Linked DNA regions of Homo sapiens. The protein of the gene in region 2 purifies or fractionates together with the protein of the main gene of each other region. This does not show direct contact. Each region holds a gene or a part of one and is shown on either strand. Other genes may lie near its edges.

Region 1 (3,500 bases), on a different chromosome or scaffold from region 2:
AGAACTTACATTTGAGTCAAATGGCCATAATGTATTATTTAAGTATACATTTTTCAGATAGCTAAAAGTTGGGATTCAGTGTTTAACAGTTTACGCTGACAAAAATATTCCTTAAAAACATTGTATTTCTCCTGGCAAATTACTTACTGAAGAGATAGAGTACAGCTATTAAGAAACAGCTTAGCTTTGGGTAAATAACAATGGTTGCTCATTTTTGGTTGTTTGTTCCTCTCTCTCCAAATAAAATGAAAGATACAGCTATGATTTCCTCTAATAGAGTTGAGCATTTTTTTTTTTAAAGGCAGGATATTTACAAAGCAAAATAGTTACATCTCAACTCCTGTATAACATTCAGTCTTTTTTTTTTTTTTTTTTTTTTTTTTTGAGACGGAGTTTCGCTCTGTCGCCCAGGCTGGAGTGCAGTGGCGCGATCTCGACTCACTGCAAGCTCCGCCTCCCGGGTTCACGCCATTCTCCTGCCTCAGCCTCCTGTGTAGCTGGGACTACAGGCACGCGCCACCATGCCCGGCTAATTTTTGTATTTTTTAGTAGAGACGGGGTTTCACCGTGTTAGCCAGGATGGTCTCGATCTCCTGACCTCGTGATCCGCCCGTCTGGGCCTCCCAAAGTGCTGGGATTACAGCAGTCTTAAGATTATTATACCGTATTGCTTTTTTTTAAACCAGTTACCATATTATCAGATTAGCATTATTGAATCAACAGGCTATTAACAGGCCTTTACTTGTCCTTTGACTATTAAGACTACTGTGGTATTACAATGACAACCTGGGACTTTTCTTGTTGCTCTGTTCTTTGATGTCCTTTGCCTGCCCTACCACTTGCTACCATTTCCTTTCTTCCTTCTTTTTCCATTTGTGCCATCTCCTATGTAATCTGTAGATTGACAGTCTGTGCCTAAAGGATTCCTCCTTATTTCTTCAGAAAACTTACATAACTCATGTAAAATTACAGAATATAGTTTTAATTTAGGGCAATAAGCTCAATATATTTCAGAAATAATTTTAAAACATCAACCTGAATTTAAAGTCATATCAAGGTTCAATCCAAGTCACAAATAGTGACTGGCACAATCACAGACAAAAAATGTTTCAAGTCGCTACAACACTATTATCTGATGCTGACAAAGTTTCATATGTTCCCAGTGTTATCTCTATTTCTTGTATCTTAAAGCATATGAAACAAGGTCTTAAATGATTTTTCCCACCACTGTTATCTTAAGTTATGGAACACTTTCTTGAGTGGCAAACAAGGATATTATGATCCAGTTATACCACTCTTTGAGAATCAATTTACTGAAATACAGCTTAGAAATCTAAGAGGAATGAATAGGTATGATGCCCTTTATCCTTATTCAAATGTAATCCAAATTTTAGCAAGCATCAACTACAGAAAACTCAAACAGTACATAGCTATAACAAAGTTTTGTTGTCCTAGTAAGGCCTCAATTATTCTTCTCTTTATTTTTACTTGTAATTACTATGAAGGAGGGTTTCAGTGATTCTTACAGCAAATATGAGTGTTTGCATAAAAATTAAATGGCCTAAAATTACTGAGGTTTAAGTTTTTATCTTGATCATCTTTTTATTTTCTATATCTTTTATTATACTATACTATAAATTAGTGTTCTTTATCTTCCTCCAATACATTTTACTCTAATTTGATCTTTGTAAGCTACCAGAGGCCAAGGAACTAAACCACCAAGGTTAGTATCTTTCTAAAATAAAACAGAAAGAGTAACTTGTTAGTAGCTGGACTTCTTGATATCTATTTCTGGTTGGTTAGAGGTAGCTTCCTTGCTGCTCTCCACCACCTTCACCCTAGTTGTGGATATTGAATCAGACACCTTTGGAAAACTGAGGCATTACTGAAAAAACTAAAAATTTCTTTTGATATTATAGCATAGGCTCATTTCTACAGACTAAGAGACTAGAACCCAAGTAGTTTATGTGACAAGCTTAAGAGAAGTACATTGGAAAAAAGAACAGATGGCTAGGCAACAACTCAGACCTAGGTTAATTAAATCTCCAAATTACAAAATAATTAAAAAAAAAAAAAAGAACTTGGCTATTATTTATTTATTTAGAGACAAGGTCTGTCACCCAGGCTGGAGTGCAGTGGTACGATGTTGGCTCACTGCAACCTCTGCCTCCTGGGTTTAAGCAGTCCTCCCACCTCAGCCTCCTGAGTAGGTGGGACTATAGGGGTGTGTCACCATGCCCAGCTAATTTTTGTATTTTCTATAGAGACATAGTTTCACCATGTTGCCTAGGCTGGTCTCCAACTCCTGGGCTCAAGTGATCTGCCTGCCTCAGCCTTCCAAAGTGCTGGGATTATAGGCGTGAGCTAATGCACCCAGCCTGGTTCGTGTTTCAAACTTTAGATTTTGTAATATGAAGACAAAAGCATATGAAGTTGAAAACTTTGACAAAATTAAAGTTGTGCTAATAGTTGTAGCTTTTGAGGAGTTTACAAAAATATTCCTGAGGCAGCAATCATTAATACAACTTTTTAGTAAAAACATTAACCATTCTTCTACCCCTGAATGGAGCAAAAGCACCCCTAATTTATAAGTCATAGTTACCCAAGAAATGTTATACAGAGCTAATAAAACTCTACTTGTACAGACTTACAACGGGACCGAGGCTCCCAAAGTAGGTATATATAAAAGAAAATGTACGATTATAAAAAACACAATGGTCAATCACAACAAACTTTTTGAAGGCATGTATGTGTCTTTAAGGACAAGAAATAAGGTTTAGCCATCTTAATATTACTTACAGCATTTTAGCATAGTGCCTTAATAGGAATTCAATTGAATGGCCAATTAATGAAATTTTTAATGGATTTAAGTAATAAAAATGCCTACTTGAAAAATTTGCTAAGCGAATATATTAACACTGAAAAATTTTACTCTTAGGAACTTCTAAAAAATTTGGTTCTTTTTAATCTCAAAAATAAATGTTTATTTTTACTAAATTTAGATTACTTTTGCTGTTAATCACTATTACTGGCCAAATAGTCTACATGTTTTATTCCAAGTAATGATTTAGGTCTTGGATGTTGATACTACGATGCTGTTTCCAATTTCTCAGCCTCCCAAATCAGTTTTTAAGATAGATGTTATTCAGTAGGAGAGAAGGTAATAAAAATCACATTTTTACTTACCATCAAATGCTTTAAATTGCCAGTTAGGAGTCTGAGATTTTCATAAGCGACTTAAAAAAAACAATCCATAGAAACCATTGTCACTTTCCCTCAAAGTTTTAATTGGGCACTATTAGTTCTACCGTAGTCCAATCCCTGTTTCTTATTCCTAACAAGTGAGTTCCTAAGGTCCTTATCTATAAATTTAATTGAGTCAAACTGAATCTGTTAACTTGGAACATTCACCTTTGTATTATTTGGGAAGAAATGTTTTTTAAACAATTGTAAAGATCACATAAAAAGGTTCAGATTATCATGTGAACAAATTGGCTTTA
Region 2 (4,761 bases):
TCCCCTTGTCCCAAAGACTTTCTGTCCACCTTTGCTGTACCCTCATAGCTCCTGGAATGTGAACTGTTTGGTTTCTGCAAGTTTTTTGATATTTCAGGGTCTGAGTCTTATCCAGGGCAGAGAGCTGGCTCCATATTAACGGGAATGGTCATTAAAGAAACAGAGTCTTGGCTTTTCCTAGAATCTAGTCTGGAGTACAAATCTAAAATGCAGAAAACACTTTCCCTAAACATGGTTCTCATAAATCCCAACTGAAATCAAGCTCATCATCTAAGAAATCACAGGAAATCCAACCTTGTTAAGCCTTGGTTGGGTTAAATCAACCTATTCCTAGGCTCCAATGGACCAGGGTCCTACAGATTCTGCTGAGCAAGGGGCCCGCTTGCACCCTGAATTACATGTAAATGCCCTTTGATGACTTGAACCCTTCCTTACGCATGTGAATCTCTTTCCTGAAATGCCTGTCTTCCCCCAGTTTCAACTCACCCTTCAGATTTCCTTACTCCCATTAGACTGTAAGCTCCGTGAAGTAAGGCAATAAGTAGGCCATATAGCAGCATGGCTAATAATCATATTGCCTGGGTTTAAATCCCAGGTCTACTGCTTTCTAGCCCTATCAAATCCCTTAACTTTTGGGTTTTTTTTTTTTTTAAGAGAAAGGGTCTTGCTTTGTTGCCCAGGCTGGTCTTGAACTCCTGGGCTCAAGGGATCCTCCTGCCTTGGCCTCGCAAAGTGCTGGGATTATAGGCTACAGTCACCACACCTGGCCCCAAATCCCTTAATATTTAAGGTCCTCAGTCTTCTCATCTGCAAATAGGGATAACACCTAACACATCTGAATGGTTGTAAGGATTAAATGAAATCATCAAAGGAAAGAGTTTAACATCATATAGAGGAGACTTGATAAACGCTTGCCCGTATTAATGTCTAGAAAATATTCCAAATCTTTTTATTTATTTATTTATTTATTTATTTATTTATTTATAAGACAGTGTCTCGTTTTGTTGCCCAGACTGGAAAGCAGTGGTGCAATCTTGGCTCATTGCAACCTCCGCCTCCTGGGTTCAAGTGATTTTCCTGCCTCAGCCTCCCGAGTAGCTGGGACTACAGGCATGCGCCACCATGCCCAGCTAATTTTTGTATTTTTGTAGAGACAGGGTTTTGCCATGTTGGCCAGACTGGTCTCAAACTCCTGACCTCAAGTGATCTGCCCACTTCAACCTCCCAAAAAGCTGGGATTACAGGCATGAGCCACCGCACCCAGCTGAAAAAATTCCATATCTGTCAAGAAAAATCCAACTCTGGGAAGACTGGAAACCACTGCTACCCTGCTTAGTCACAGAAACAGGGTCCCACCGAAGTGAGGGATGGGAGCTGAAGGGAAAGTGAAGCTGCTTTGCCAGCCAAGTCATCATACTCACAATCACACAGTTCTTCCCAACATGAACATAGGAACCAATCTGTGCTGCGTTGACCACACAATCTTCCTCAATAAAGACATGGTCTCCAATATGTAAAGGAAAGAATGCAACACTAGAAGAGGAAAAGAAGATGAACACAGAAAGGTCAAGATGATGTACTTTGGGTCAAGGTTTATAGAACTACAGATCATAATTTGAACTTTATCATCTTAGCAAGACTGTTCCCAGCAAGGAAAGAAACCTCAGGCTAGAAAAATTATACAATATTGAAGAAAATGAATATGATTACTAGTTCAAAATTGCAATAGTACACCAAAGAAATATGAAAGGAAAAACCAAGGCAGGAGGGGCAAGATCTTCAAAGCTAAAAGAGCAGGTACCAAATAAAAATCAATGAACGTTTGTTCATTCCCACTTCCTTTGAAAATGCTCACAGATCACATTTTTAGTAACCTGCCCTATAATGTTCCAGGGGATTGACAGTAGGCTCATGAGTTATAATTTCCACATTCAGCATTCTAAAAATTTATTCATTCACAGACTTCAGTGAGTGACTACTATGTGCCAGACTCAATGCTAGAAATTAGGGCTATAATAATGACAAAAGAGAGAGAACACTGTCCACGAGCAGCTTGCAATCAAGAGAAGAAATGAGATTAAATAGTAAGTAGTGACAACTGTGATAAGGGCTACAGAAACACAATATCAAGTTATGAGCATATATAACAAGGAGACCTTACCTAGTCCATGGATTTAGGAAAAACTTAATTGACTTTGAGTAGGAGTCAGCAGGCTTTCTCCAGATATCTGACATCATTCCCATCCCGTTCTCTAGGGTTCCTCAAATGTCACTGACAGTGGTTCTGTGATCACATTTATATGTAATTTCTATACCTTGGGATGTAAAATATTTGGACTGGAATGAATATAAAGTGCTAGATGCTCACTAGAGAAAAGGGAAGTAGAAATGCAGAGAGAAGGGCAGTATAGAAGAATTCCAATTCTGTTCTATTCTGTCCAGAATATTTTTTCAGAGATGATACCTGTCCTCTACGAACCTATAATTTGTTTAAATCTTCCTTAACCACTAGTATTTTTGGTCTGTACCTCTTGTGCAGCAATGCATTCCCTGATCTCATCACAGTCTGTAGCAGTACTGACAGTTCTTTAATTTTAAATTTAAGATTCCAAGTTCGATAGTATTATCTGGTTCTGGTATGACATGCAGGTAGAAAAAAATCCACATTTAGCTTCTATTCATGTTTTGCTATTTACACTTTCATATTTTCAGCATTTCTCACATGTACTATTCCTATTTACACATCCCTTCATTCAGCAATAAACCCCTTGTTCACTCTTGGTGCTTTTCCTGTGCCATATCCAACCCAACAATGCTGTTAATCAACATTTCTAGTAGTGTATCAGTCACACTGTATAAAACCATAATAGGGTACCAGGAGGTTTTCTGGTTTTCCCCTAGTAGCCTTCAAAGCTAATCATGTGAATGTTTTATAATGATTCTCCGATCCAGTTCTTGTATGTCATGGAAAGCCTGGAATCCAACATCATTATTGGAAATGTGGGATTATTTCTGCATGATATACTTCTGGGTATTATCATTAGTTTGAGTTAATTGCTCCCTTCTCTGTTCCTTCCTAACCATGGTCATACCTCTGTGACAGGTGTATCACATCATATAGTAGCTGTCATATGTCGCTATCTGATTATGCTAATTGCTTCTACAACTAGACTTTGGGAACCTTGAGGCAGGAATTTTATTTTATCTATCTTTATATATTCTCAGCTTACAACCCAGCTGCAGGCATGAGGAAGGTGCTCAATAAATGCTTGCTGACTTATTGGATGAAATGCAGATGGGTGCCAGGAGGGCAATTAGTCAAGGAGGAGAGAAGCAAAGAGGCAAAGAGAATACTTTAGCACCATTATCAGCTATGGTGGTCAGTTTGCCTGCTCTGTCCCTGGCCTTTCTTGGACAGTCTTTATTCCCACTGAAGGATCAGTGGACCTGACTTGACTCTGCCCTTTGGGTCAAAGTCGTTCAGATCAGGGATACTTAAGATGAGTCAATCAGATTCTCTCTCTCAAGAGTTTGGAAGTAACACATAAGATCTCTAGTTGGTGTCTGCTGGAAGCCTAAATGGAGAAATGATATAAATTAGAGGCTGAGTCAGCAAGGTAGGCTCCATGAACAAATGGGGCAGGTATCTGTGAGAGAGAAAAGGCAAGTAGAAATGCAGAGAGAAGGGCAGTATAGAAGAAAAAATACAGTCTCAGATACAGAGAGGGATAGGTAGACAAAACAGTCTTGATTCCGGCTAGCTGTCCAATTCCAGGTTCCGGTCCCTTGTGAGGCCTGGCTTGCTCCTTTTCCTCCTCTTAGGTTCCATTATATACGCCAGTCTGTTTGATCAGAAATCCTTTGCTTTTGCCAGTGTGTAAGCGGATTCTGTTTGTAGCAACCAATCATCAACCAGACTGAGACAACCACCAGCAGAGTTGTGTTCATTATGGTGAACTCTTACTCAGTGCTTCAAACAGGACAGACCTAGTCATTATACCACAACTCAACACATGGACCACACCACCAGTGGCAGCTTCTTGCCCAAGACTTGAACAAAGTAATTAAATTACATACCCTTTGCTGAACTTCTTGAATGGTGGCCTTATGACACTACGACTTTTCACAACACAATGACGTCCAACTCTTACATTTGCCAGATCCCCTCGGATAATACAGTCATTCATCACAATGGTCTGTAAGACGAAGCAAATTTTAAAAAATTAGCAACATAGCCTAAGACGTAACAAAAAAAGAGTAGATAACGAGATACTGATTCTGAGTTATGTTACAATCCACTCTGACAGAATGTTTCAAATGTTCCGCCAAAAGGAATAAATTGTAAGGTAAAAAGAGAACTGCCCTCATGACAGTGACTGCAGTTAGTGATGTTCCTAGTACATCACAAGCTTTGCCCTTAATCCCCCATGAATAGAACTCACTGAATGAGCACTTAGTGAGAACACCTATAGCAGATCTGGCTTATATGTCTCTTTAGATTTGCTCAGGTAAGTCCTCATGCCCCCCAAGCCTTGGCTGCTCGCTTACCAAGAGTTCTGGCTGCTTTACCTTTGTCTTCTTTCTTAACACTACACCTCCTCCAACTCCATGCTCCAAGAGGTGGACCCACTGGAGTTCTGGTTCATCTCCCAACCTCTGAACTCAGATTCTAAGTGCTACACTGCAAAGTGTAAGGCGTGGCTTCCCCAGAAGTTGTTCCCCTATAAGTCTGGGAGGATTAATGCCTTATACTTGGTAAAG
Region 3 (4,761 bases), on a different chromosome or scaffold from region 2:
ATTGAAATTTTTTTAAGTGGACTATTCTGGTGAGTTTCTGTATTTACATAAAAAATTTTAGAATAATGACCTAAAATGCTAATATCAACAATATAAATTTAAATAAATGCCAGGGTTGACAGGAATTCTTACTTGCTCCTTTAAAATTTTTCAAAGTGGGTCGGGTGCTGTGGCTCACGCCTGTAATCCCAGCACTTTGGGAGGCCGAGGCGGGTGGATCACAAGGTCAGGAGTTCGAGACCAGCCTGACCAACATGGTGAAACCTCGTCTCTACTAAAAATACAAAAAATTAGCCGGGCACAGTGGTGCGTGCCTGTAATCCCAGCTACTCAGGAGGCTGAGGCAGGAGAATCGCTTGAACCTAAGAGGCCGAGACTACTGTGAGCAGAGATCATGCCACTGCACTCCAGCCTGGGTGACAGAGTGAGACTCTGTCTCAAAAAAAAAAAAATTTTTTTTGAAGTAATCTTGCATATTTGGCTTTTCAACACACACGGTTAGAAGTAAAATAGTATTCAGAAAGGAGTAAAATAGCAAATTGCCAAATAGATTTTCCTGGCATTCAGAAAAATTCAGGTTTAGGCCCCAGTCCCCTACAGGAGCCTGGCCTCATAACATTTTCAGCCCAAGGTCCCACTAATGAAGAAAGTGTTCCCTAACCATGAAGTGTTAGTCAGGAAGCATAAGGCTGGGTGACACCTGAACTATGTACCATTTCTGCCAACACACAACCCAGCAGCTACTGAATATGGACCAAGGGTTCTACCTTCTTCCTCCTCGTCGTCATCGCTGGACTCACTGACATGCACGCTGACAGCAGTGTTTGGAGAGTCTGTCCATTCAAAATACACCCCAAACCCAATGTCATAATTGTCTGTGGCAAATTCCCAAAAGAGATATGATCCTTCTTCATGGGTGGGTACTCGAACAGTGACCACTTCTCCTCGGCCCACTGTAATCACGGAATCTGCATCCTGCTGAATCTTCTCTTTGAAGTCTTTGATCTGAGGTCGTGTCCACATGGATGGAGCTGCTATTACTGGAAGAGATTCTAAAGGCAATAGGTATTAAAAAGCTAAAGAAAAAGAGCCTTCACCCTGCAGGTAGCCACATTTTCATAGCACTACCTGATCAGTTGTACTCAGGCACCAAGTACAATATGGTCTAGCTTAGATCAAGGACTTGGAGGAATAAAAAAGCCTCCCCATGGGAGTCTCTCCAGATTACTATGTTTAACAATGTTGCAGGCACTCAGAGGTCATCGTACTTCTTCAAGTAACAATGGCAGCCCACAATTTTAGAAACGAATTTTTTTCAACACTCCCTCTATGGGGATTCAAGAATGACCTTGGGAAGGCCCCAGCTGGAGTGAGGGAAATATTCTAGCAAGGAAGAGAGATTCTGGCTTTAGGAATAAATTACTCTTGTGGATGTGAACAAAGAAAGCTGGACTTTGACTTCAGCCTGTCTGTTGAAAAATTCTTCACCTCCAACTATCCCAAAGTTCTAGGGGCTATTCTAAAGGAGCTCAAAGAAACAAAAACTCGGACAGGATTAGAACCACTAGGGACTGAGAAAAAGGGGTAAAGTCTTGTTACTGAGCAGTACCTATGTGCACTTGACTATGCAATAAGTTTTTCAAAGTTAGTCACAGAGCCTTTGAAATATTTTCTCTCATTTGAAGATGCTAGTATAATCCCTTGATAAGAAAAAAAAAGGGAAGGGGGCAGTAAACCAAGGGATTTCAAAGCCTTTTCTGAAGCAATTATTACTTGTTCTAAACAGACAAGGAAGATCTCTGAAACCAAATTTCTTATGAACCATACCACCATCCCTGACCACTGTCACTGAAATGCTCTCCTCTTCCTCCTTACTTAGTTAACTCCTCTTGCTTCAGATATCTCAGGTCAATTGTCCCTTCCTCTGGGAAGCCTCTGGTGGCCTCTCTGACTAGGTCACACTTCCCTGTTTTACATTCTCTCAAAGATAATGTACCTCTCTCTCCATCACCGTACTTATCACAGCTACAATCTACATTTTCTGTGTGTTATTTTGCCTCACCACTGTACTCCTAGCACTCAGGAAACCTTCAACTAATTGCTGAATGAACAAATGAGCTGCCCATGGAAAGCTAGTAGAGCTTTGAAAATGCAGTTATTTTCTAGGCAACATGATACATTAGTCTCAAAAATATATCTATTTCTATGGTAGCCAGCCTCCAAGATGGTCCCCAGAGATTCTCACCTCTGGGTCTTCATGCACTTGTGAGGTCACCACCCACAATATATAAGGATTGGTATGTGTGACCAACAGAATATGGTGGGAGTTCCAAAGTCAAGGCATAAAAGACACTGCCACTTCTGCTAGGGGAAGCCAGTAACTGTTTTGAGGACCCTCAAGAAGCCCTATGGAGAGGCTTCATGGGGCCAGGAATTGAGCTTCCAGCCAAAAGCCAGCCATGTGAGGGAACCATTTTGGAAGCAGATCTTCTAGTCCTGGCATCAACATCTTGACTGCAATCTCATGAGGGAGCCTAAGTCAGAGCCATTCAGCTAAACTGCTCCTGAAACCCTGACCCACTGAAGCTGTACAAGATAGTAATAAATGTTTATTGTTATTTCAAGCTACTAAATTTAGGTGTAATTAATTTTTGTTTGTTTTTTTTTTGAGAGACAGTCTTGCTTTGTCACCCAGGCAGGCGGAATCATAGTTCACTGCAGCCTCAAACTCTTGGGCTCAAGTGATCTTCCTGCCTCAGCCTCCCAGAGTGCTGGGATTACAGGTATGAGCCACTGCGCCCAGCCTGTAATTTGTTATGCAGCAATAGATAATTTATATATATATATATGACAAAACATAACTTTTGTCTTAAAAGTGTCCAAAGACATCTGATTTGCTCTTCTACACTGGTCTATGAGTCACCAGAGCATTAGATTCAGACTAAAAAGAGTAAAAAAATGTTCAACTCTCACAAATATGTAATTGTTCTCAAAAGCTAATTATAACCTGACTTCATGACTTTTGCCTTTCACAGATTTGGAATTATGACATCTGGACAAACACATATGCAAAACCTACCTTTTGGTCCATTCTCCAGGGCTTCTTCTGCAGCTTCTGGTTCCAGTTCTTTTTCGGAGCTGTCAGTGTGTGTTTTGGCCTGTCCATTAACTGACATCATATTACTTGGTACAGTTGCATTCACTTTTGATGATGTAGGCAAGGAAGACCCAGCCACTACTACTTCCTGTTGTTTCTGTAATGCTGCCTACAAACCAAGAGAAAGTGAAGACACACTGACCAGGAAGGCTAGCAAATAAGACATCTGCCCTGGAGTACATCTGATACCATGCTTTTGCCCTACCAAAGTGCTATGCTCAAGAAATTACTAATAAATTTTTATCAGTTTTTATCCTGTCTATAATGAATATTATTAGTACAATATCAAACTGACAGCTAAAAATAATAAAAAATCAATAAAAATTAATGTGGACAAAAACCTGCAACTAAGGCTCACATTTCTGTGATCTGAGAATCACCATAAAAACTAACCAGGAAAAATGAAAGTAAGGCCAGCCAAAGTGGCTCACACCTGTAATCCCAGCACTTTGAGAGGCGGAGGTGGGTGGATCATTTGAGGTCAGGAGCTCAAGACCAGCCTGACCAACATGGTGAAACCCCGTCTCTACTAAAAATACAAAATTAGCTGGGCATGGCAGCACACGCCTGTAATCCCAGCTACTTGGGAGGCTGAGGCAGGAGAATCGCTTGAACTCGGGAGGCGGAGGTTGCAGTGACCTGAGATCGTGCCATTGCATTCCAGCCTGAGCAACAAAAGCGAAACTCCATCTCAAAAAAAAAAAAAAAAAGTAGAAATAATCAACCCAAAATAAAACTATTAAAGGCAAAAATTGAACACAGTAATGTGCTCTTGAAATTGATGGAAGAAAAAAATCTTGATAAACTTTAAATACACAAAATTTGAATTAGAAAAATTAAACTTGGTGGGAATAGTCACAGAAGAAAATTCACAAAGGCAGAAGCTATAATTGGCAAAATCTGGTATGGGCCCCCAAAGCAATAAAAAAATCAAATATGGACAATTTATTCTAACATAATTGACCCCAAAAAGTCAATAAATTAAAACTTCAGGGAAAAATTATGATCACAATGAAATTGAAAATTGTTAATCGTGTTGTAAAATGCTGACCTAAGAATCAAACAGACTTACAGGATGCAATTTGAGGTTAAAAATATTTTCTCAATGAAAATTTGTCACTGTTTATATAGTTATGATTGAAATGTGTATTCATAAATATAAAATCAAAATGTCCTCTGAGTCAAAATGGCAGTAAAAACATCTTAAATCCAAAGGACTATTTTGGGACATTCCTCTTCTAAATCAATATGGACAGATACTACTTCAAATATCTGAGTATTACTTAGGTAACTTTGGTGGGGAACTATAAATTGAATTACAACATACATGTAGAAAGTGTACAAATGATAAATTACACAGCTTGATCAATTTTCATAAATCAAACACATCCATGTAACTAATACTCAGATCAAGACAGTATCTGCATCCAGAATATTCCCTGGTACCCCTTTCTGGGCACCTGCCCTGAAGGGTAACAACTATTTGACTTATAACACTATAGATTTGCTTTGCCTATTTTAAAACTTTAAAGAAATGGGTTGTATAGTATACATTCTTTTTTATGTCTGGCTACCTTCACTCAACATTACTTTTATAAGCTACA
Region 4 (4,761 bases), on a different chromosome or scaffold from region 2:
AGCTGTGATCATGCCACTGCAGTAAGCTGTGATCATGCCACTGCACTCACTCTGGGCAACAGAGTGAGACCCTGTCTCAGAAAAAAAGAAAAAAAAATGAGGTTCCAGTGCTTTGGGAGGCTGAGGCAGGAGGATCACTTGAGGCCAGGAGTTCAAGACAAGCCTGGGCAACATGGCAAGACTTCATCTCTCCAAAAAATTTAAATAAAATAATTAGCCAGGTGTGGTGGTGGTACATGCCTATAGTCCCAGGTACTTGGGAGGCTGAGGTGGGAGGATTGCTTGAGCCCAGGAGTTCAAGGCTACAGTGAGCTAGGATTGCACCACTGTACCCCAGCCTAGGTGACAGAGTAAGACCCTGTCTCTTAAAAAAAATAAAATAAAATAAAATATTAGGAACATTTTTGCCTTCTTATTTTAATAGGATCATGTCTCTCACTTTACAAATTCTCAAAACATATGGTTCCCTTTTTACATACATATATAAACACTTTTAAACATAAATATCAAATGCATGAGAATCATATGGGCAGATAAATTTAGGAAGCCAAGAACACAGAACGAAAAGCCAGTCACCAGATCTTACAAATAATCATCTAAACTTCTCTGGCCATTCAATTTGATACATTATCCCAAATATTCCATGTCACATGGTCCACAAGGTTTTCTTTTGGGATTCTGAAGCAATCAATAGCCATACTTGTCATTAAGATGGGTTCTGCCATCTCCACTTTGACCTAGATCAGAATATAAAAAAAGAAATACATTATTTACTCTTCCAAAGTCAGGAGAGAAAAGATATCCAGATATCAGTAGGCCAAAAAGTAAAATAGACAAAAAGGTTTATTCTACGGTAGAAATTTTACTTTTTGTATGAAATTTCAAAATACAGCCCTCTTTCATTTCTACCCTAACATTTGTTAGCATAGAAAAAGCAGACATCTCAAGTAACTAAATTATATTAGTTACTAATATATTAGAAATCTCAAGCTGTGATGAACATATGAGGAAGTAAGTATCTCATACATTGCTTTAAGGGTGTGTGTATGAGCATAAAACTGGTACAATCTCTATAGAATGCAATTTATAATATCTTTAAAATGTTTATACCTTTGATCCAGCAGGTTAACTTTTATGATTTTTTTTCTATAGATGCTCCTCTCTACTTAGCATTTTATATATAAGTATCCATAAGAAACTAACAACAATTGGTTGTCTTGTGAGGAAAACAACCGAGTAGCTGAGGCACAGCCAGAATTGTTTTCCTTTCTTTTGACTTGGTAAAACCCAGATAACATTACACCTGTAAACACTTCCGTATATATTCCTAGAAGACAAGGACTTTTTCCAAAAAACATAACTCAACATCATTCACACTTTAAAAAAATAAAAAATAATTTCTTAGTATCATCAAATATCCAGGTAGTGTTCAAAATTATCTGACTGGCTAATAATTTTTTTAAACAGTTGTTTGTTTGAATAAGGATCCAAACATGGTATACAAATTATCACTACATACTCTTGTAACTTTCTTATGTTGAACCTTAAATCTATATTACCTATTCAAAAATATAAATAAATGAACCTTAGAGGAAAAAAAAGTAAAAACAATCTACCTTCAGGTGGGACCCACACACAGTAGTCTGGGTCATCTTCAGGATATTTGGAAGAAAGTGTTGGTGGAAGCTAAAAAGAAAAGATGGATTGTTTTATTCACAAGAATTTCTCTCCAGAAACCTTACAACTGCAGAAGGGATTGGGGTCCTATTGTTAGCCTCCTTAAGCAGAATAAACATTAGTCAAGAATTTTGTATCCAACAAAACTAAGTTTCATGAATGAAAGAGAAATAAAGTCTTTTTCAGACAAGCACATGCTGAGGGAATTTGTCACTACCAGACCAGACCTACAAGAAATGCAAAAAGGAGTTCTAAATCTTAAAACAAAAGGTTGGCATGCACCAGAATAGAACCTCTTGAAAGCATAAAACTCACAGGGCCTATAAAACAATAATGTAATGAAGGAAGAAAAGTATCTAGGTAACAATCAACATGATGACTGTAACAGTACCTCACATCTCAATATTAACATTCAATGTAAATGGTCTAAATACTCCACTCAAAAAAAAAAAAAAAATCACAGGCTGGGCGCAGTGGCTCACACCTGTAATCCCAGCACTTGGGGAGGCTGAGGTGGGTGGATCACCTGAGGTCAGGAATTCAAGACCAGTCTGGCTAACGTTGCAAAATCTCTACTAAAAATACAAAAATTAGCCAAGTGTGGTGGTGTGTGCCTGTAGTCCCAGCTACTCGGGAGGCTGAGGCAGGAGAATCACTTGAACCCGGGAGGCAGAGGTTACAGTGAGCTGAGATCACACCACTGCACTCCAGCCTGAGCTACAGAGCGAGATTCCGTCTCAATAAATAAATAAATAAATAAATAAATCGCAAACCAAATATCTGCCATCTTCAAGAGACTCACTTAACATGTGAGGCTTCTTATAGACTAAAGGTAAAGGAGTGGAAAAAGATATTCCATACAAATGGAAGCCAAATGCAAGCAGCAGTAGCTTTTCTTATATCAAATAAAATAGAATTTAAAGCAACAACACTGAAAAAAAGACAAAGAAGGCTATTATATAATTATAAAAGGATCAACCCAACAAGAAGATATTACAATCCTAAATATATATGCACCTAAAACTGGAGCTCCCAGATTCATAAAACAACTACTACCAGACCTAACAAAAGAGAAAGACAGCAACACAATGATAGTGGAAGACTTCACACTCCACTGACAACAGCAAACAGATCATCAAGGCAGAAAGTCAACAAACACTGGACCTATACTATACTCCAGAACAAATCAACTAACATATTTACAGAACATCTACTCCAGAACTGCAGAATATACAATCTTCTCATCAGTGCCTGAAATATTCTCCAAGATAGACCATATGATAGACCACAAAACAAATCTCAAATTTAAAAAAATTGAAATCATATCAAGTATCTTCTCAGACCACAGTCGAATAAAACTAGAAACCAACTTGAAAAGGAACCTTCAAAACTATACAAATACATGGAAATTAAACAATCTGCTTCTAAATGATTTTTGGGTTAACAATGAAATCACTGGAAATTTAAAAATTCTTCAAAATAAATAATAGTGACACAAGTTATCAAAACCTCTGGGATACAGCAAAAGCAGTGCTAAGAGGAAAAATTTATAGTGTTAAATGCCTACATCAAGAAGTCTTGAGCCAGGCATGGTGACTCACGCCTATAACCCCAGCACTTTGAAAGGCCAAGGCAGGAGGATTGCTTGAGCTCAGGAGTTCAAGACCAGCCTGGATAACATAGCAAGACCTCATCTCTATTTAAAAAAGAGAGAGAGAGAGAGAGAGAAAAGTCTGAAAGATCACAAATTGACAACCTAATGTCACACCTCAAGGAACTAGAGGAACAAGAACAGACCAAATGAGGCTGGGCGCGGTGGCTCATACCTATAATCCCAGCACTTTGAGAGGCTGGGGTGGGCAGATCGCTTGAGTCCAGGAGTTCAAGACGAGCCTGGTCAACATGGTGAAATCCTGCTTCTAACAAAAGTACAAAAATTAGCTGGGCGTGGTGACACACGCCTGTAATCCCAGCTATTCAGGAGAGCTGAGGCAGGAAAATTGCTTGAACCCGGGAGGCAGAGGTTGCAGTGAGCTGAGATCGCACCACTGCACTCCCTGGGCAACAGAATGAGACTCTGTCTCAAAAAAAAAAAAAAAAAGAACAGATTAAACCCAAAGCTAGCATAAAAGAAATAACAAAGATCAGAGCAGAACTAAATGAAATTGAAACAAAAGAAACTGCAAAAGATCAATGAAAAAAAAGGTGGTTTTTGAAAAGATAAACTAAATTCATAGATCATTAGCTAGATTAGACAAGAAAAGAAGATTCTATATTAGTTCAATTAGAAAGGAAAATGGAGACATTACAAGCAACACCACAGAAATACAAAAGATCCTTTGAGACTACTATGAACACCTCTATGCACACAAACTAGAACATCTAGTAGAAATGGATAAATTCCTGGAAACACACAACCCTCCTAGACTGAATCAGGAAGAAACAGAAATCCTGACCAAACCAATAAAAAGCAGTGAGATTGAGTCAGTAATTAAAAAATATTACCACCAACAAAAAAAAGCCCAGGACCAGAAGGATTCACAGTCAGATTCTACCAGACATTCAAGGAAGAATTGGTACCAATCTTACTGAAAGTATTCCAAAAGAATGAGAAAGAAGGAATCCTCCCTAACTCATTCTATGAAGCTAATATCGCCCTGATACAAAAACTAGGAAAGGACATAACAAAAAAAAAGAAAACTAGAGCCCAATATCCCTGGTGAACACAGACGCAAAAATCCTCAATGAAAGACTAGTAAACTGAATCCAACAGCATATCAGAAAAATAATACACCCTATTCAATACACCATGATCAAGTGGGTTTCATCCCAGGGATGCTGGGATGGTTTAACATATGCAAGTCAATAAATATGATACATCACAGCAACAGAATTAAAAACAAAAACCATATGATCATCTCAATAGATGCAGAAAAAGCATTCAATAAAAGTCAGCATCCCAGGATCATTTGAAGCTAGGAGTTTGAGACCAGCCCGGGCAACAAAACAAGACTTATTTCTACAAAAAAACCCACAAAAATTAGCTGGGCATTGTGGTACACAACTGTAGTCCCAGCTACTCAG

What was found.
Region 1: the proteins of DCTN5 (region 2) and SMC4 fractionate together in Homo sapiens (co-fractionation; one large-scale study listed by BioGRID). This does not show direct contact.
Region 3: the proteins of DCTN5 (region 2) and ACBD3 fractionate together in Homo sapiens (co-fractionation; one large-scale study listed by BioGRID). This does not show direct contact.
Region 4: the proteins of DCTN5 (region 2) and SLC4A1AP fractionate together in Homo sapiens (co-fractionation; one large-scale study listed by BioGRID). This does not show direct contact.

What each region holds. Positions count from the first base shown.
Region 1 is NC_000003.12:160,406,150-160,409,649, reverse strand, and holds part of SMC4 (structural maintenance of chromosomes protein 4), read right to left. Parts: intron 1-3,500. UniProt on the Homo sapiens protein: Central component of the condensin complex, a complex required for conversion of interphase chromatin into mitotic-like condense chromosomes.
Region 2 is NC_000016.10:23,657,942-23,662,702, reverse strand, and holds part of DCTN5 (dynactin subunit 5), read right to left. Parts: intron 4,197-4,761; coding exon 4,078-4,196; intron 1,534-4,077; coding exon 1,422-1,533; intron 1-1,421. UniProt on the Homo sapiens protein: Part of the dynactin complex that activates the molecular motor dynein for ultra-processive transport along microtubules.
Region 3 is NC_000001.11:226,151,568-226,156,328, forward strand, and holds part of ACBD3 (Golgi resident protein GCP60), read right to left. Parts: intron 3,411-4,761; exon of another isoform or gene 3,267-3,410; coding exon 3,080-3,266; exon of another isoform or gene 3,036-3,079; intron 1,053-3,035; coding exon 768-1,052; intron 1-767. UniProt on the Homo sapiens protein: Involved in the maintenance of Golgi structure by interacting with giantin, affecting protein transport between the endoplasmic reticulum and Golgi. Involved in hormone-induced steroid biosynthesis in testicular Leydig cells.
Region 4 is NC_000002.12:27,690,610-27,695,370, reverse strand, and holds the end of SLC4A1AP (kanadaptin), read right to left. Parts: intron 1,687-4,761; coding exon 1,617-1,686; intron 738-1,616; coding exon 688-737; 3' UTR 402-687; downstream 1-401.